2 separate regions of the Homo sapiens genome follow, and region 2 is linked to region 1. Evidence: fine-mapped expression QTL. Tissue or cell type: whole blood. Region 1 holds a variant in brackets; the other region holds the start of a gene. All regions are shown on one strand. Distances are from middle to middle.

What was found. PIP is the estimated chance that this variant, and not a neighbour inherited with it, causes the effect.
Region 2: MED19 starts here. The variant in region 1 is fine-mapped to the expression of MED19 in whole blood (INTERVAL, PIP 0.98).

Annotation. Positions count from the first base shown.
Region 1 is chr11:57,853,064-57,861,172 of GRCh38, reverse strand. No RefSeq gene overlaps it. Among named protein-coding and RNA genes, the nearest start is that of CTNND1, 95 kb to the right of the region's middle. The variant T/G (reference allele first, on the strand shown) is at 3,777.
Region 2 is chr11:57,707,470-57,715,578 of GRCh38, reverse strand. It overlaps MED19 (mediator complex subunit 19), which reads left to right and starts at 3,364. Exons shown (of 5, transcript NM_001317078.4): 1 at 3,364-3,616. The coding sequence starts at 3,400. TMX2 (thioredoxin related transmembrane protein 2) reads right to left here and starts at 2,986. Exons shown (of 8, transcript NM_015959.4): 1 at 2,772-2,986. The coding sequence starts at 2,960. It overlaps TMX2-CTNND1 (TMX2-CTNND1 readthrough (NMD candidate)), which reads right to left and starts at 3,056. Exons shown (of 21, transcript NR_037646.1): 1 at 2,772-3,056. RefSeq lists an enhancer at 1-26 and a silencer at 3,394-3,733.

The DNA of each region.
Region 1 (8,109 bases):
GGAAGTGGGATGATAGGAAGGAATAGGTCACTATGGGAATAGTGACCTCTCCCCAGCAAAACTGGCCAAAGTGATATCTAAAAGTAAACTAAGTAATTTTGATAATGGCAAAAAAGTTAAGCAGTTCATATGAGTTCTCACAGCTAGTAAAGATATGAAGGACCTGGTTAGCTAATAAACATGAAAATCTCATTTTTTGAAGTAGCAATTAAAAATCTCAAGATACACTTTCTTGGCTTTTGGTAAGCAATGTGGTTTGTTTTTGTTTAATTTTTTAATTGACGAATAACAATTGTACATATTAATGGGGGCACATACTGATGTTTCGATACACATAATGTACAGTGATCAGATCAGGGTAATTAGCTTATCCATCACCTCAAACATTTATCAATTGTTTGTGTTGAGAATGTTCAATATCCTCCCTCTAGCTATTTGAAACTATATATTATTGTTAACTATAGTCATCCTATAGTGGTATAGGACACTAGAATTTATTCCTCCTAACTAGCTGTAATTTTGTAGCCTTTAATCTCTCCCTATTCCTCCCTTTTCCCTACCCATCCCAGCCTCTAGTACCCTCTGTTCTACTTTTTACTCCTATGAGATCAACTTTTTTTAGCTTCTACATATGAGTAAGAACATATGGTTTTTAACTCTCTGTGCCTGGCTTATTTCACTTTACATAATGTCCTCCAGTTCCATCCATGTTGCCAGGAATAACAGGGTTTCATCCTTTTTTATGGCTGAATAATATTCCATTGTGTATACATACCAATTTTCTTTATCCATTCACCTGTTGTAGAACACCCAGGTTGATTCCATACCAAAATACACTTTTACAGCCACCTAATCTCCAAAAAAATCTGACCAGCCCAGTGTTAGTGGATGTGGAATGTGGGGTGGGGTGTGAATTGGATTGACCACTTTCAACAACAATTTAGCATCAAAATAAACATTGAAGATATATATACTCTATGATCCTGCAGTTCTATTCGTAGGCATATAATCTAAAGAAGTTCTGGCACATTTGCACTGTAAAACATGTACCAGAAATTTGTTTGTCATAGCAAAAAAGTGAAAGCAACCAAATGTCCATCAACAATAGAAATTCATGCATAAGATAGGCCCTATTCATGGCCAAGCGCGGTGGCTCATGCCTGTAATCTCAGCACTTCGGGAGGCCGAGGCGGGTGGATCACCTGAGGTCAGGAGTTCGATACCAGCCTGGCCAACATGGCGAAACCCCATCTCTACTAAAAATACAAAAATTAGCCAGGCATGGTGGCAGGCACCTGTAATCTCAGCTACTAGGGGGGTGCTGAGACAGGAGAATTGCTCGAACCTGGGAGGCGGAGGTTGCAGTGAGCCAAGATCGCGCCACTGCACTCCAGCCTGGGCAATAGCATGAAACTCAGTCTCAAAAAAAAAAAAAAAAAAAGAGGCTATTCATACATCAGAAACTAACAAGTGGCAAAAATTAATGAACTACAGGTCTCCGCATCAACATGAATGTGGCTGTAAAACACAAGATTGAATAAAATAAGCAAGTCACAGAGAATGTACAACTTATTTTTTCATTTGTATAAAATTTTAAAATAGGCAAAACTAAACAGTTATAATGTTTAAAAATGTATTACAGATAAACTATTTAAAATAAAACAAGGAATAATTGATGCAAAATTTAAGAAAGTGTCTACCTCTTATGGAGATAAAAGGGATAGAATTAGGAGAAGCACACGGGAGCCATCTCAGATCATGCTACTCCACGCGTGATCCTTGGCCCACTGGTATCTGGGTCACTTGGTAGCCTGTTAGAAATACAGAATCTCAGACTCTTTCACACACCTACTAAATCAGAATCCACACTTTAAAATGATCCCCAGGTGATTCATAAGCTATTAAAGATATTTGTAAAGTTCTATTTCTAAGGTGGATGGTACAAAAATGGGTGTTTATTTTAGCAATATTCTTTAAATGCCAGAGGTTTTAATACACTTTTGTATGTATCATATATTTTATAATTAATAATATTTTGAGGCCAGGCACGGTGGCTCACGCCTGTAATCCCACCACTTTGGGAGACCGAGGCAAGTGGATCACTTGAGCCCAGGAGTTCAAGACTAGCCTGGGCAACATGGTGAAATCCCGTCTCTATTATAAATTTTTTAAAAAGAAAAATAATATTTTTGAACTATATAGTTTTAATGATGTTTTATTTAAAAATATGTATAAAGACAGAAACAAAAATGAAGACCACAAAGATGACAAAGAACTGAAACCATTTAGACTCAAAATCCAGGGCTATTCTCACTATAATGATATAATAAGGCCCACTACCTTTTTTTTTTTTTTTACATCTCTTGTGCTGCATCAGTAAACAGAACTTTGGTTAGTTTTATGAAATGCAACATCTAACCCCTTGTTTTCTGGGAAAAAGAAACTGCAATGACTTGGAGTTAAGAATGGCCGGGTGCAGTGTTGGCTCAGGCGGGGCACGGTGGTGGCTCATGCCTGTAATCTCAGCACTTTGGGAGGCCAAGGCAGATGGATCACCTGAGGTCAGGAGATCGAGACCAGCCTGGCCAAAATGGTGAAACCCCGTATCTACTAAAAATACAAAAACTAGCCGGGGGTGGTGGCAGGCGCCTGTAATCCCAGCTCCTCAGGAGGCTGAGGCAGGAGAATTGCTTGCACCTGCGAGGTGGATGTTGCGGTGAGTGGAGATCGCGCCACTGCACTCCAGCCTGGGCAACAGAGTGAGACTCTGTCTCAAAAACAAAACAAAACAAAAAAAGAATGTAAGAATGTGGATACCACCTCACTCACACACACTCATTCTCAGGCTGTAAAAAAATCCCTCACCCTCCTTCTAGCCGGCAAGCATACAGTACCATTTGGCAAAGGTACAGCAAAGGTGGGCTTGAGACCCAGGCTCCATCTTTCTCCTCAGTAGCAAAGGAATAAGGCCCACTAACTGAGTGTTTGCCCCAAGACAGTAAATGAACAGACTGCAATGAATTTATCCATTTCTTTTCTTTTCTTTTCTTTTTTGAGATGGAGTTGCACTCTTGTTGCCCAAGCTGGAGTGCAATGGCACGATCTTGGCTCCCTGCAACCTCCACCTCCCAGGTTCAAGCGATTCTCCTGTCTCAGCCTCCAGAGTAGCTGGGACTACAGGTGCCTGCCACCACATCCGGCTAATTTTTGTATTTTTTTAGTAGAGGCGGCGTTTCACCAATTTGGCCAAGCTAGTTTTGAACTCCTGACGTCAGGGGATCCGCCCACCTCAGCCTCCCAAAGTGCTAGGATTACAGGTGTAAGCCACCGGGTGCCCCGCCGAATTTATCTATTTCTAATGGTCATGCTGCAACTGGATGGACAAAAGCCCATGATAAAAATTGATAAACTACTAGAAGCTTCAGTGGTTTGATCATTTTCATTGCAATATTCTGGAATGGGGGGTGGGTAGGAAAGCTATTTTCCCATTCAGACAGTCCCTGCCTTTAATAATACATAATGCTTTCCTGGAAAATGTTTTGGAAAGTAGAATGCCTGAAATTTGAACTTTATACTTAAATGTTTTATTTGGTGGGGGAAGGAGGAAAGGAGGAAAGGAAGGAATTCAATCCATAGAGCTAGAGAAAAAAATTATGACGTCTCAAACATGATATAAATGCTTAACTTGATTTTACATCTGAATGTTATACACCATATGCAGATATTTAAACTATTAAAAACAGATTGTATTTTATTTAATTTATTTATTTATTTAT[T/G]TATGTTTTTATTGAGACGGGGTCTCGCTCTGTCACCCAGGCTGGAATGTAGTGGCGCAATCTTGGCTCACTGCAACCTCTGCCTCCCGGGTTCAAGCGATTCTCCTGCCTCAGCCTCCTGAGTAGTTGGCACTACAGGCGTGTGCCACTACACCCAACTAATTTTTGTATTTTTAGTAGAGACGGAGTTTCACCATGTTGATTGGGCAGGATGGTCTCCATCTCTTGACCTCGTGATCTGCCCATCTCAGCCTCCCAAAGTGTTGGGATTACAGGCGTGTATCCTTGCAACTCAAAATCCTTCTGGTGTATCCTTGCAACTCAAAATCCTTCTGGTGTATCCTTGCAACTCAAAATCCTTGTTCATTCAGTTTACTTGAAATGATATTTGGCATATTCCTTCTCTCAGGGTTCACAAAGTACCAAGGAATAAGAATGGGACAGAGAGGGATACCTGCATATTGGCATTTACCATAACATCTTTATTCCCATTTGGTTTCCAACTGCCCAACCACGTTGATCATATTTATGACTCCATGTCCCAGAAGGAAAGCCTCTCCAGGCTCTCAGCTACTCCTTTTTCCCTCTCAGAGGGCAGTGGACACATCCATCCACTGTCCCATGCCACTCTGGGTTCATAGGAATATTGTCTCAGACTCTCTCTGCCTGGCCCTGCCACACGAACATTTCTTCTCAATGTCTACACTTCAAAAGGCACAGAAGCGGCCGAACGTGGTGGCTCACGCCTGTAATCCCAACAGTTTGGAAGGCCGAGGCGGGTGGATCACAAGGTCAAGAGATCGAGACCATCCTGGCCAACATGGTGAAACCCCATCTCTGCTAAAAATACAAAAAAATTAGCTGGGCGTGGTGGTGCATGCCTGTAGTCTCAGCTACTCGGGAGGCTGAGGCAGGAGAATCACTTGAACCCGGGAGGCAGAGGTTGCAGTGAGCCGAGATCGCGCCACTGCACTCAAGCCTGGGTGACAGAGCAAGACTCTTATCTCAAAAAAAAAAAAAGAAAAACGAAAAAAGGTGCAGAAGCTCTAGCAATTTGGGCCACTGGATAGATTCCTCCTTAAAGATTCACCAGACTTAGAGCTCACTTCTCCTCTGACTGTCTTCACTTTACAAGTCTAAGGAATTTTTTTCTAGTCTTTAAGAGAAAAGAAGACACTGGAAAAACTGGCTCTGACTGATCACATATTCTCATGTGCCTGTGGTTAAGGCCTGAGTTTATTCTCTGGGTTATTCTCTGAATTTATTCTCAGGATGGTTCTAGCTTTTGAAGTTCAAAAGCTTTTTAATCACAAAGGTTTTTATCTCTACCTTGAGTTTCCAAAACATATTTTAAACCTCAAAGGCCAAGGATTGACTTCTTTGGTATCTGCACTATGCTGCAACAACCCTATCCCGAGGCATGGCTGCCAAGAGGTCAAGTTTGAACTGGGAAGGACCCCCAGGTTAAAAAATATATATATTATCTGGAAAAAAACCTGATACATCAAAATAATATTCTGCTACACGTAGTTGTAAAGATCCACACATTTGTTCCATGACTGCACCTTATTTTTAGCCACAAGCTTTGCCAACATACTTATAACATTTTGTACATGTGTTTTAAGTTTGACTGTTTTCTTTTATAATTGAACACAGTTGTCAGATCTGCTTAAATTTGATAAGCATCAAAATTTACTGTTTCTGGCATACTAAATAATAGCTTCCTTTGACACAATTGGAAAATCATTAACATCAGCACTTTATTTTTCCAATTCCACTATACTTTTATAAATAAGGGCAAATATGCAACAAAATGTTCAAATCACTGCACAGACATTGCCATATTTAGATGGCAACACTGCTAAAATGAAACTATTGGCTGGCAGACAACAGTAACATAATGTAACTTGAAATAGTTATTTGTCTACTAAAATAAGAAAGTCAAAATTTGGTATAGAAAAGTTTAGAAGTGTTTATGTGTAATATATGGAAATGATAGTCATGTAAAAGCTAATGACTACCTGAATTTTGATTCATTAATTTTTGTTCATCTTCACCTAGCTCCATATCTCTTAAATATAAACAATTATTTTAAAAAATTATTTGTAACAGCTTTATTTAGATACAAGTCACATACCATACATTTCACCCATTTAAAGTATATAATTCAGAGGCCGAGGTGGGTGGATCACTTGAGGTCAGGAGTTCGAGACCAGCCTGGCCAACATGGTGAAACCTCATCTCTACTAAAAATACAAAAATTAGCTGGGCGTGTTGGCGGGTGCCTGTAATCCCAGCTACTCAGGAGGCTGAGCCACGAGAATCGCTTGAACCCAGGAGGTGGAGGTTGCCATGAGCTGAGATCTGCCATTGCTCTGCAGCCTGGGCAACAAGAGCGAAACTCCGTCTCAAAAAATAAAATAAAATAAAACTAAAGCATACAATTCAATGAATTTTAGTGTATTTACAGAACTGTACAACCATCACCACAATCAATTTTAGAAAATTTTCATTATCCCAAAAAGAAGCCCTGTACTCTTTAGCCACCATCTGCCAATCCCTCTATACCCTGCAGTTCTTTGCAATAATTAGTCTACTTTCTGCCACAATAATTTGCCTATTTTGACATTTTATATAAGTGGAATCACAAAAAAATGTGTTAGAGATGGGTTTCTTTCACTTAACAAAATGTTCCTAAGTTTATCCATGAAGTACCTTGTATCAGTACTTCATTCCTTTTTATGGCTGAATAATATTCCATTGTATGGGTATATGGCTAGACTACTCTTTATTTATTTATCAGTTAATAGATATTTGGATTGTTTCTACCTTTCAGCGATTGTGAACAATACCGCTATTAACATTCATGTACAAATTTTTGCATGAACATATATTTTCAATTCTCTTGGTTATATATCTAGGAGAGGAATTGCTAGGCTATAGGGAAACTCTATGTTTAACCTTTTGAGGAATTGTCAGACTGTTCCAAAGTGGCTGCATCATTTTACATTTTCACCAACAGTGCATGAGAGTTTCAATTTCCCCACATCCTCACCAACACTTATTATTTGTCTTTTATTATTATAGCCATCCTAATGAATATGAAGCAGTAGCTCATTGTGGTTTTGATTTGCATGTTCCTGATAACTAAAATCTTGAGCACCTTTTCATGTGCTTACTGGCCATTTTGATATCTTCTTTGGAAACAACTGTCTATTCAGATCCTGTGCTCATTATTAGTTGGATTATTTGTCATTTTATTATTGACTTGTAAGAGTTCTTACACAATCTAGATAAAAATCCTTTAACAAATAACATGATTTTCAAATATTCCTCCCATTGAATATCTTTTCTTTTCATTCTCTCATAATGTCCTTTAATTTTTTTATGTTTTTCTAGGGTTTTTTTTATTATTATACTTTAAGTTATAGGGTACATGTGCACAATGTGCAGGTTTGTTACACATGTATACATATGTGTTGGTTTGCTGCACCCATTAACTCGTCAATTACATTAGGTATTCCTCCTAATGCTATCCCTCCCCCATCCCCCCACCCTATGACAGGCCCCGGTGTGTGATGTTCCCTGCCCCGTGTCCAAGTTTTCTCATTGTTCAATTCCCACTTCTGAGTGAGAACATGCGGTGTTTGGTTTTCTGTCCTTGCGATAGTTTGCTCAGAATTATGGTTTCCAGCTTCATCCATGTCCCTACAAAGGACATGAACTCATCCTTTTTATGGCTGCATAGTATTCCATGGTGTATATATGCCACATTTTCTTAATCCATTCTATCACTGATGGACATTTGGGTTGGTTCCAAGTCTTTGCTATTGTGAATATTGCTGCAATAAACATACATGTGCATGTGTCTTTATAGTAGCATGATTTATAATCCTTTGGGTATATACCCAGTAATGGGATCACTGGATCAAATGGTATTTCTAGTTCTAGATCCTTGAGGAATTGCCACACTGTCTTCCACAATGGTTGAACTAGTTTACACTCCCACCAACAGTGTAAAAGCGTTCCTATTTCTCCACATCCTCTCCAGCACCTGTTGTTTCCTGACTTTTAAATGATCACCATTCTAACTGGTGTGAGATGGTATCTCATTGTGGTTTTGATTTGCATTTCTCTGATGACCAGTGATGATGAGCATTTTTTCATGTGTCTTTTGGTTGCACAAATGTCTTCTTTTGAGAAGTGTCTGTTCATATCCTTTGCCCACTTTTTGATGGGGTTGTTTGATTTTTTCTTGTATATTTGTTTAAGTTCTTTGTAGATTCTGGATATTAGCCCTTTAGATGGGTAGATTGCAAAAATTTTCTCCCAT
Region 2 (8,109 bases), 150 kb after region 1:
ATTCTAAGAGGTTATAAAAGGTTTATGGAAATTTTATCTTGTCTAGTCAAAGCTGATCAAGATTAGACAGATTTGTTTGTAAAGTTTATTAAAATCAGCTTTAGTATTAAAAGCACATTAATACATATATATTATATATAAAATATATTTTTTTAATTTTATTTATTTATTTATTTTGAGACAGAACTTTGCTCTTGTTGCCCAGGCTGGAGTGCAATGGCACGATCCTGGCTCACTGCAACCTCTGCCTCTCAGGTTCAAGTGATTCTCCTGCCTTAGCCTCCAGAGTAGCTGGGATTACAGGCACCCACCACCACACCCAGCTAATTTTTTGTATTTTTAGTAGAGACGGGGTTACACCATGTTGGCCAGGCTGGTCTCGAACTCCTGAGCTCAGGAAATCCACCCGCCTCAGCCTCCCAAAGTGCTGGGATTACAGATGTGAGCCACCATGCCTGGCCAAGTGTCTTATTTTCAAGGAGGATCATGGAAAGCATGGGAAGAATGCTGACAAATAAAGGTTTCTGATAACTTTGAAACTGTATCACCGGACTGGGTAAAAATTTCCAAAGTCTAATGAAAATAAAACTGGACTCATAAAATTGCTAACCTCCAGACTAATGTTTTCCATTTTTCACCCACTCTTCTGACTTAGAATCACTAAAAATTAAAACGGCCTTTTTTAGCTTGGCGCAGTGGCTCACACCTGTAAATCCCAGCTCCTTAGGAAGCCAAGTCAGGAGGATCCCTTGAGCTCAGGAGTTCAAGACCAGCCTGGGCAACATCAAGAGACCCCACCTTGAAAAAAAATTTTTAAAAATTAGCCAGGTGTGTAGTGCATGCCTTTGGTTCCAGCTACCTGGAAAGCTGAGGTGGCAGGATGGCTTTGCCCAGGAGGTTAAGACTACAGTGAGCCATGATCACATCACTGCACTCCAGCTTGGATGACAGAGCAAGACCTTGTCTCAAAAAAAAATCCAAAAAACTAAAAACCCTGCCTTTTTCCTAAGGCCTTACCAGCTAAAGCTAGTCAACGTGACTTTGAAAAAAAAATCACCACAAAAGCTTATATTTGGACAAACTTTACACACAACCTACAATCTAGGAAAATAGATTGCTATTAATCTTCCCAATTGACTGCCCTCCAGACTCTAAAGAAACTAGTTTATAGACTATACCAGATATTAAGCTTTGTTTGTCTTGTTCCATAGAAATGTCTCTCTTATTAAATACCTGTTTGCCTACATCATATACAGAGGCCTAGCTTTGAGAACTCATCTACAATGCCATCTTCTGAAATGAGACACAACAATTTAATTGAACTGGACTATCCCCCAAAATGAGAGGCTGGTTTAATGGGATCCTTTGCCGCTCAATTACTAGCCCGATTTCTCTCTCCACAGACACCAACTCAGCTTATAGTGAAACTTCTAAGGAAGTTTCAGACAAAGGAAATAAAGAAGACCAGGGACTCACACCCCAAAATATGGCATCCTGTATGCTAATCATTTTAAATTAAAGGTCCCTGGAAACCAGCAGATACTGGAAGCAGCTTTACTCTGATAACTACCTTATCTGCCTAAAGTCCAGACCTGTCAAAGAAGACAACAATTACTTCTGGTCTCTTCCCTGAGTTTTCATTAACTTACTTCAGTACAAGAAGAAAGATGGAAGCCTGTCAACACACCTGGACAGATTTTTGTCAGAAACCATTGTCTGCTCTGCAGGCCCAACAGTCATTGTCCCAGGCCACTGTATGTTCTCCAGGCCACTGAATCACCCTAAAAATCATTTACGATCCACCTTAAAATCACCCACATTTTCCCATCTCCCATATTCCTATGAAAGAGGGTATATAAGCATCTGTACCCCACTGGGTCATTCTCCTGCAATTCCCTCATGCTATGCACGTTAAAATAAAATTTCTATGCCTTTCTCCTATTAATGTGCCCTTTGTCGGTTGATTTTTCAACAAACCCTCAGAGAGCAAAGGGGAAGCTTTTCCTTGGCCCCTACATGCTATATGGCAGAAGGGAAAGTGCTTTAAGTTTATGTTCCGAGCAGTCCCTCCACCCATACCAAGGAAGCACAGCAAGGAGCTTGGGACACTTCCCAAAGAAATCCCAAAGATTTCTTTACAACGTATTTTTTACAATTCCTTTACAGTAGCCCCCAAATTTTATCCACTTTCGCATCTTCAGGATCAAGCAGAGTGCCTAGAGTGTACACTCTAGAAATGTTTATTGAATTAAGAAGCGGCTGACAGTGTTGTGCAGGTAGTGTGGCCAGAAGAGTAGTTTCAAGTCCCAGGCACTCATTAGTTGTATGACCTGGGGCAAGTCACCTAAATATACCGAGATCCATTTCTTCACCAATGAAACAGGAATATTACTACTTGCCTTGTCTACCTTACTGGCTCCTCAGGAGGCTTTACATAATGAGCGGCACTGTAAAACGTTATACACGTGTATGTACAGTTTTGATAGGGCTGTTAATTAGTCTCAATGGTGAAACAGAAAGAAACCTGGACTCAACAGTCAAAAGCTGTTGGGCCGTTGTGCATGGGCTACGACTAACATGTTCCGTTTTCCCATCTTAAACACAAAGTTTAGACTCGATGATGGTTCGGACCCTGCACTTAATAGTCTCTAAGTCCGCTACAGGCTCGGAACCTCAGGTGTCCTCAGAGAGGTAAACCCCAGGGTTCCCAGATACACCTGCAAGGGCAGGGACAGTCAAGGTCGCGGGGTACTAACACGCGGGAGGCTCACCCAGTCAAAGTCACACGGGTTACCGTCTTCGCGTTGGGTGGGCAGACCGTGGCAGAGCGGCGGCAGTTTCCTCACGAGTAGGAAGGCAGCAGAGAGCAGGGCCGACAGAAGGTAGTAAGGTTGGGCGAGCCATCGTGAAAGTCGCGGCACCGAATACACGAGAGCAATTAGAGGTGCCAAGACCGCCATCTTTTCGGCCGTAACGGCCACTGCTCGCCGGCGTCGTAGGTCTCGCCCCGCCTCCCCCACCATAACGACTGCTATTGGGCTATATCGCAAACGTACGGCCTCTAAACCCGGATGTAGTTCTCTGAACGCTGTGGTAGGTCAGAACCCAAAAAAGAACTTAATATTTTATTGGTTAGTCTAGTTGTCGCTTTATCCGCCTAAGTCATTTTATTGGACTGTAGCAAGCAGAGCTAGCAGAAGACTCTAATAAGGTTAAATAGCACTTCCTGAACGTTCTCATAAGGCGACGGAAGTAGTTGTTGAAAAAAGGTAGGCGGTGCCTGAGGCATCCAATGACAAGCGGCTCCTTGAGAAAGGGCGGGGGGGTACTCCTTGAAAGCATTGTCCAATGAAAATTACCAACGGCAGACACGGAGACAGCGCCGGGGCGGAGGGTACGATGGAGAATTTCACGGCACTGTTTGGGGCTCAGGCTGACCCACCACCGCCCCCAACCGCACTCGGCTTCGGACCAGGAAAGCCTCCACCCCCGCCACCGCCTCCTGCGGGCGGGGGACCCGGCACGGCCCCGCCTCCCACCGCGGCCACGGCTCCTCCTGGCGCGGACAAGTCAGGAGCTGGCTGTGGCCCTTTTTACCTCATGAGGGAACTGCCAGGTGAGTACTCGGCCTTGCCAAAGCCAGCCAATCAAATCTTAGAGAGGAGGTGATGGGCGTGGCTCTCAGCCGGCTAGCGGAGGTGCGAGGTAACCTAGGCAACGCATACCCGGACTGTGGAGCCCTAAGTCGGAAGCGCTGTTAGGATTCACAAGCAGAGGGATGACTTGAATTCAACCAGGATGAGTTGAATTCAACCAAAGGGATGAATGGCGGGCAGGGGCGTAGTGCATCTCCGTTACTGTCTTTTGCACCATGTCCAGGCTGTGTCCCTGACACTGGTTTATGTCTCTCTAAAAAATGACCTAGGGCTGGGCGCGGTGGCTCACGCCTGTAATCCCAACACTCTGGGAGGCGGAGGCGGGCGAATCACCTAAGGTCAGGAGTTCGAGACCGGCCTGGCCAACATGATGAAACCCTGTCTCCACAAAAAACACAAAAATTACCTGGGCGTGGTGGCGTATACCTTTAATTCCAGCTACTCGGGAGGCTGAGGCGGGAGAATCGTTTGAACCCCGGGAGGCGGAGGTTGCAGAGAGCCGACATTGCTCCACTGCACTCCAGCCTGGGCGAACGAGACTCCGTCTCAAAACAAACAAAATCCAGGGTTTGAGTTTGGAACTCGAGAGGCCTGATTTAATATCTTTGGGGACCCAAAGTTTTAGTTACAGGTCTCCCACAGACTTGCTATTGGTTTGGGGCAAGTTGCCATTCTTCCTTCTAAGGTTCCGGCATTTCCTGGTCTGATCAAAAAAGGGATAAGAATCGAACCAAACTCTTCATTCAAAAAATTATTTTGTTGAGTACCTATGTACCAAGCACTTTTCTAAATGCTGGAGACAGTTGTGAACAAGACTGACAAGATGCTTGCCTTTTTTGGGATGTACATTTCAGTGGAGGAGGCATTGTAAACAAGATAATGTCAGAAAGTGGTTAATGCTAGGAAAAGAAAACATGATAAAAATTGAAGGTGGCCAGGCGCGTTGCTCACGCCTGTAATCCCAGCGCTTTGGGAGGCCGAGGCAGAATCCCTTGAGCCCAGGAGTTTGAGACCAGCATGGGCAACATGGCGAGACCCAGTCTCTACAAAATATACAAGATTAACCGGGCGTGGTAATGCATGCCTGTAGCCCCAGCTACTCAGGAGGCTAAGGGAGGAGAATCGCTTGAACACAGGAGGTCGAGGCTGCAGTGAACCAAGATTGTGCCACTGCACTCCAGCCTGGGCAACAGATGAGACCCTGTCTCTTAAAAAAAAAAAATTGAGGGGCAGAACTACTTTAGCTAGAGTGGCCAGAGATGCTCTCTTCACATAGCTAACATTTGAACTAAAATGTAAGCATAGACAAAGGGCCAGCCATGTATGGACAGGAGGGAGAGACAATTGTAGATACAAGAAATGAGGTCAGAAACCCTGATGTGAGAAAAAGCTTAGAATATCTGAGGGACAGAAAATCAGTTGGACTCCAGTGAAGTGAACAAAAGGAAAGAGTGTTAGGGAGAGAGATGAAGCTGGGAGAGTTAGGCAGAGGCTTTTATAAAGCAGTAAAGGCATTTAGATTGTAAATACAAAAGGAAGCCATTTAAAAAATTTTTTTATAGACACAAGGTCTCACTGTGTCACCCAGGCTGGACTGCAGTGGTATAATCATAGCTCACTGTAACCTCCAGTTCCTAGGCTCATGCTGTCGTCCCACCTCAGCCTTCCAAGTAGCTAGGACTACAGGCATGCACCACCACAGTTGGCTAACTTAAAATTTTTTTGTAGAGACTGGGTCTTACTGTGTTGCGCAAGCTGGTCTTGAACTCCTGGCCAACAGCAGTCCTCCCGCCTTGGCCTCCCAAAGTGCTAGGATTATAGGTCTGAGCCACTGTGCCCAGCCAAGGAAAGCCATTTTAACATAGGAAGTTGGTCAAATGCACTTGTTTATAATCATTTAAGCAGCCACATGACAAATAGAAAGTGGGGAAATTAGTCAGAAGTTACTGCTCAGTAGTCCAGGAAAGATAATGGTTTGAACCAGAGCATAGCAGGGCATAGAGAAGTAAATGGATACAGGATGTTAGAGGTAGAGCTGACAGGGTTGAAAAATTGAATACAGGGCCAGGCGCTGTGGCTCACGCCAGTAATCCCAGCACTTTGGGAGGCTGAGGTGGGAGGATTGCTTGAGCCCAAAAGTTTGAGACCAGCCTGGGCAACATAATGAGACCCCATCTCTACAAAAAATAAAAATAAATTAGCTAGGGATAGCAGCATGCACCTGTAGTCTCAGCTACCTAGGAAGATGAGGTGGTAGAAATCACTTGAGCCCAGGAAGTTGAGGCTGCAGTGAGCCATGATTGTGCCACTGCACTCCAGCTTGGATGATAGAGGAAGACCCTGTCTCAATTAAAAATATATATTGTATATAGAAGTGAAGGAAATAGAGGAATTGATGCCTTTTTAAGTTTTCGGCTTGAATAATTGGGTGTATGGGTACGGAGACTTGGAAGATGAGGAAGGAACAAGTTTGAAGAGGTGGAAATCAAGAGTTATTTTGGACATGTTTGGTCTCCAAGATGCCTCTTTTTTTTTTTTTTTTAAACAGAGTTTTGCTCTTGTTGCCCAGGCTGGAGTGCAATGGCACAATCTCAGCTCACCACAACCTCCGCCTCCCAGGTTCAAGCGATTCTCCTGCCTCAGCCTCCCGAGTAGTTCGGATTACAGGCATGTGCCACCACACCCAGCTAATTTTTTATTTTTAGTGGAGACAGGGTTTCTCCCTGTTGGTCAGGCAGATCTCAAACTCCCAACCTCAGGTGATCCGCCCACCTTGGCCTCCCAGAGTGCCAGGATTACAGGCGTGAGCCACTGCGCCCAGCCTCCCAGATGCCTTTCATTGTCTCAAGTCTTATTTCCACATCATGACTTGAGGGAAATAGCAACAAATATTGGTATAGTACTTTGAAGTTCACAACACACTTACATGCAGTATTTAATATAAGTAGTATTTAATACTTAGAATAGCCCTTTGAGGTAGCATTACTGTCTACATTTTATAATTGAAAAAACTGAAACATGGAGAAGTTGACATCCCTTTGATTAGTTAGTGGTTGATGTCCACCAGCGGTTTCTTTTAATCTTTCTTTTGCCTTCCCTATTCTGATTGTAGCTATTTGTATCAGTCAGTTGACAGATATTGAATATATGTTCTGGGCAAATGCTGGGTGTATGAGGCGGGTGAGATGGAGAGAGAGATTAGTAATGCTGGTCATTGCTTTTCAAGGAGTTTAGTTAGGAATGTAAAATTTGTGGTTTAAGGATAGTGACTATATTTCCTGTCACCTCCATCTCATTTTGTGCTCATGCCTCACAACAGCAATTAACAATATCTTAGCCATCAATATTAAGAACTACCTAATGGTTTTCAAAGTGTGTTGCTATCCAGAATGACAGTGAGAATAAGATGTCACTTGAGCTAGACCTTGAATAATCCATATTGGTGAAGAAAAATTAGGAAGAATTTTCCTAAGATGAAATAATGTGAGGGGTGTTTTTTTGAGGCGATAAGGAGATCCATTTGGATGGATCAGAAATTTTGCATAGGAGAGTAGTGGTTGATGAGGCCCCAAAGCTAAGTTGGAGTAAGATGTAATTAGCCTTGAGTGCCAGTCAAAGGAATTTGAGCTTTCTCCTGAGGGCAAAAAGAAACCATTAAGATTTGTGAACTGAGGAGTACTGATTTCCAAAAATATCTGGAACATGTGGGTGCCATGGATTGAAATAGAGAAGCCCTGAGTGATGTTGGCAAGATTTGGAATTTCAAAACAATTTTTTTTTTTTTTATCTTGTTGGGCAGGGTGGTTCACGCCTGTAATCCTAGCACTTTGGGAGGCTGAGGCAGGCAGATAGCTTGAGTCCAGGAGTTCAAGACCAGCCTGGGCAACATAGGGAGACCCCTGTCTCTACAAAAAATACAAAAATTAGCCTAGCATGGCAGTGTATGCATGTAGTCCCAGCTACCTGGGAGGCTGAGGCAGGAAAGTAGTTTGAGCCCAGGATGCAGAGATTGCAGTGAGCTAAGATTGTGCCATTACACTCCAGCCTGGGTGACAGAGCGAGACTGTCTCAAAAAATAAATAAATATAAAAAGTAATCTTTGTAGAATAGTCAAAACTGGAATTTGAACTCTCAAGTTACAGTTTAGAAAAAGCACAGACTGCCTTCTCACCTGAGCCTTAAGGATAACCATCTGGACAGAGGAGAGTTGGCAGAGCAGGGGAAATTCAGAAGATTGTAATGGCAAGAGGCAGTGCCCAGAGTTATGAGGAGAGATACTGTGACATTGGGTCTCCTGCCATTACCCTCGCTCAGTCTTCTGAGTTGTTTGGTAGTAAAGGGAAGGAAAAGGATGAATAAGGCCTAGAGGTATAGAGGGAAAGTGCCTTGTTTATTTAATAAATATTTATTAAGCACCTAATGTGTGTACTGTGCTGGGCACTAGCGATACATG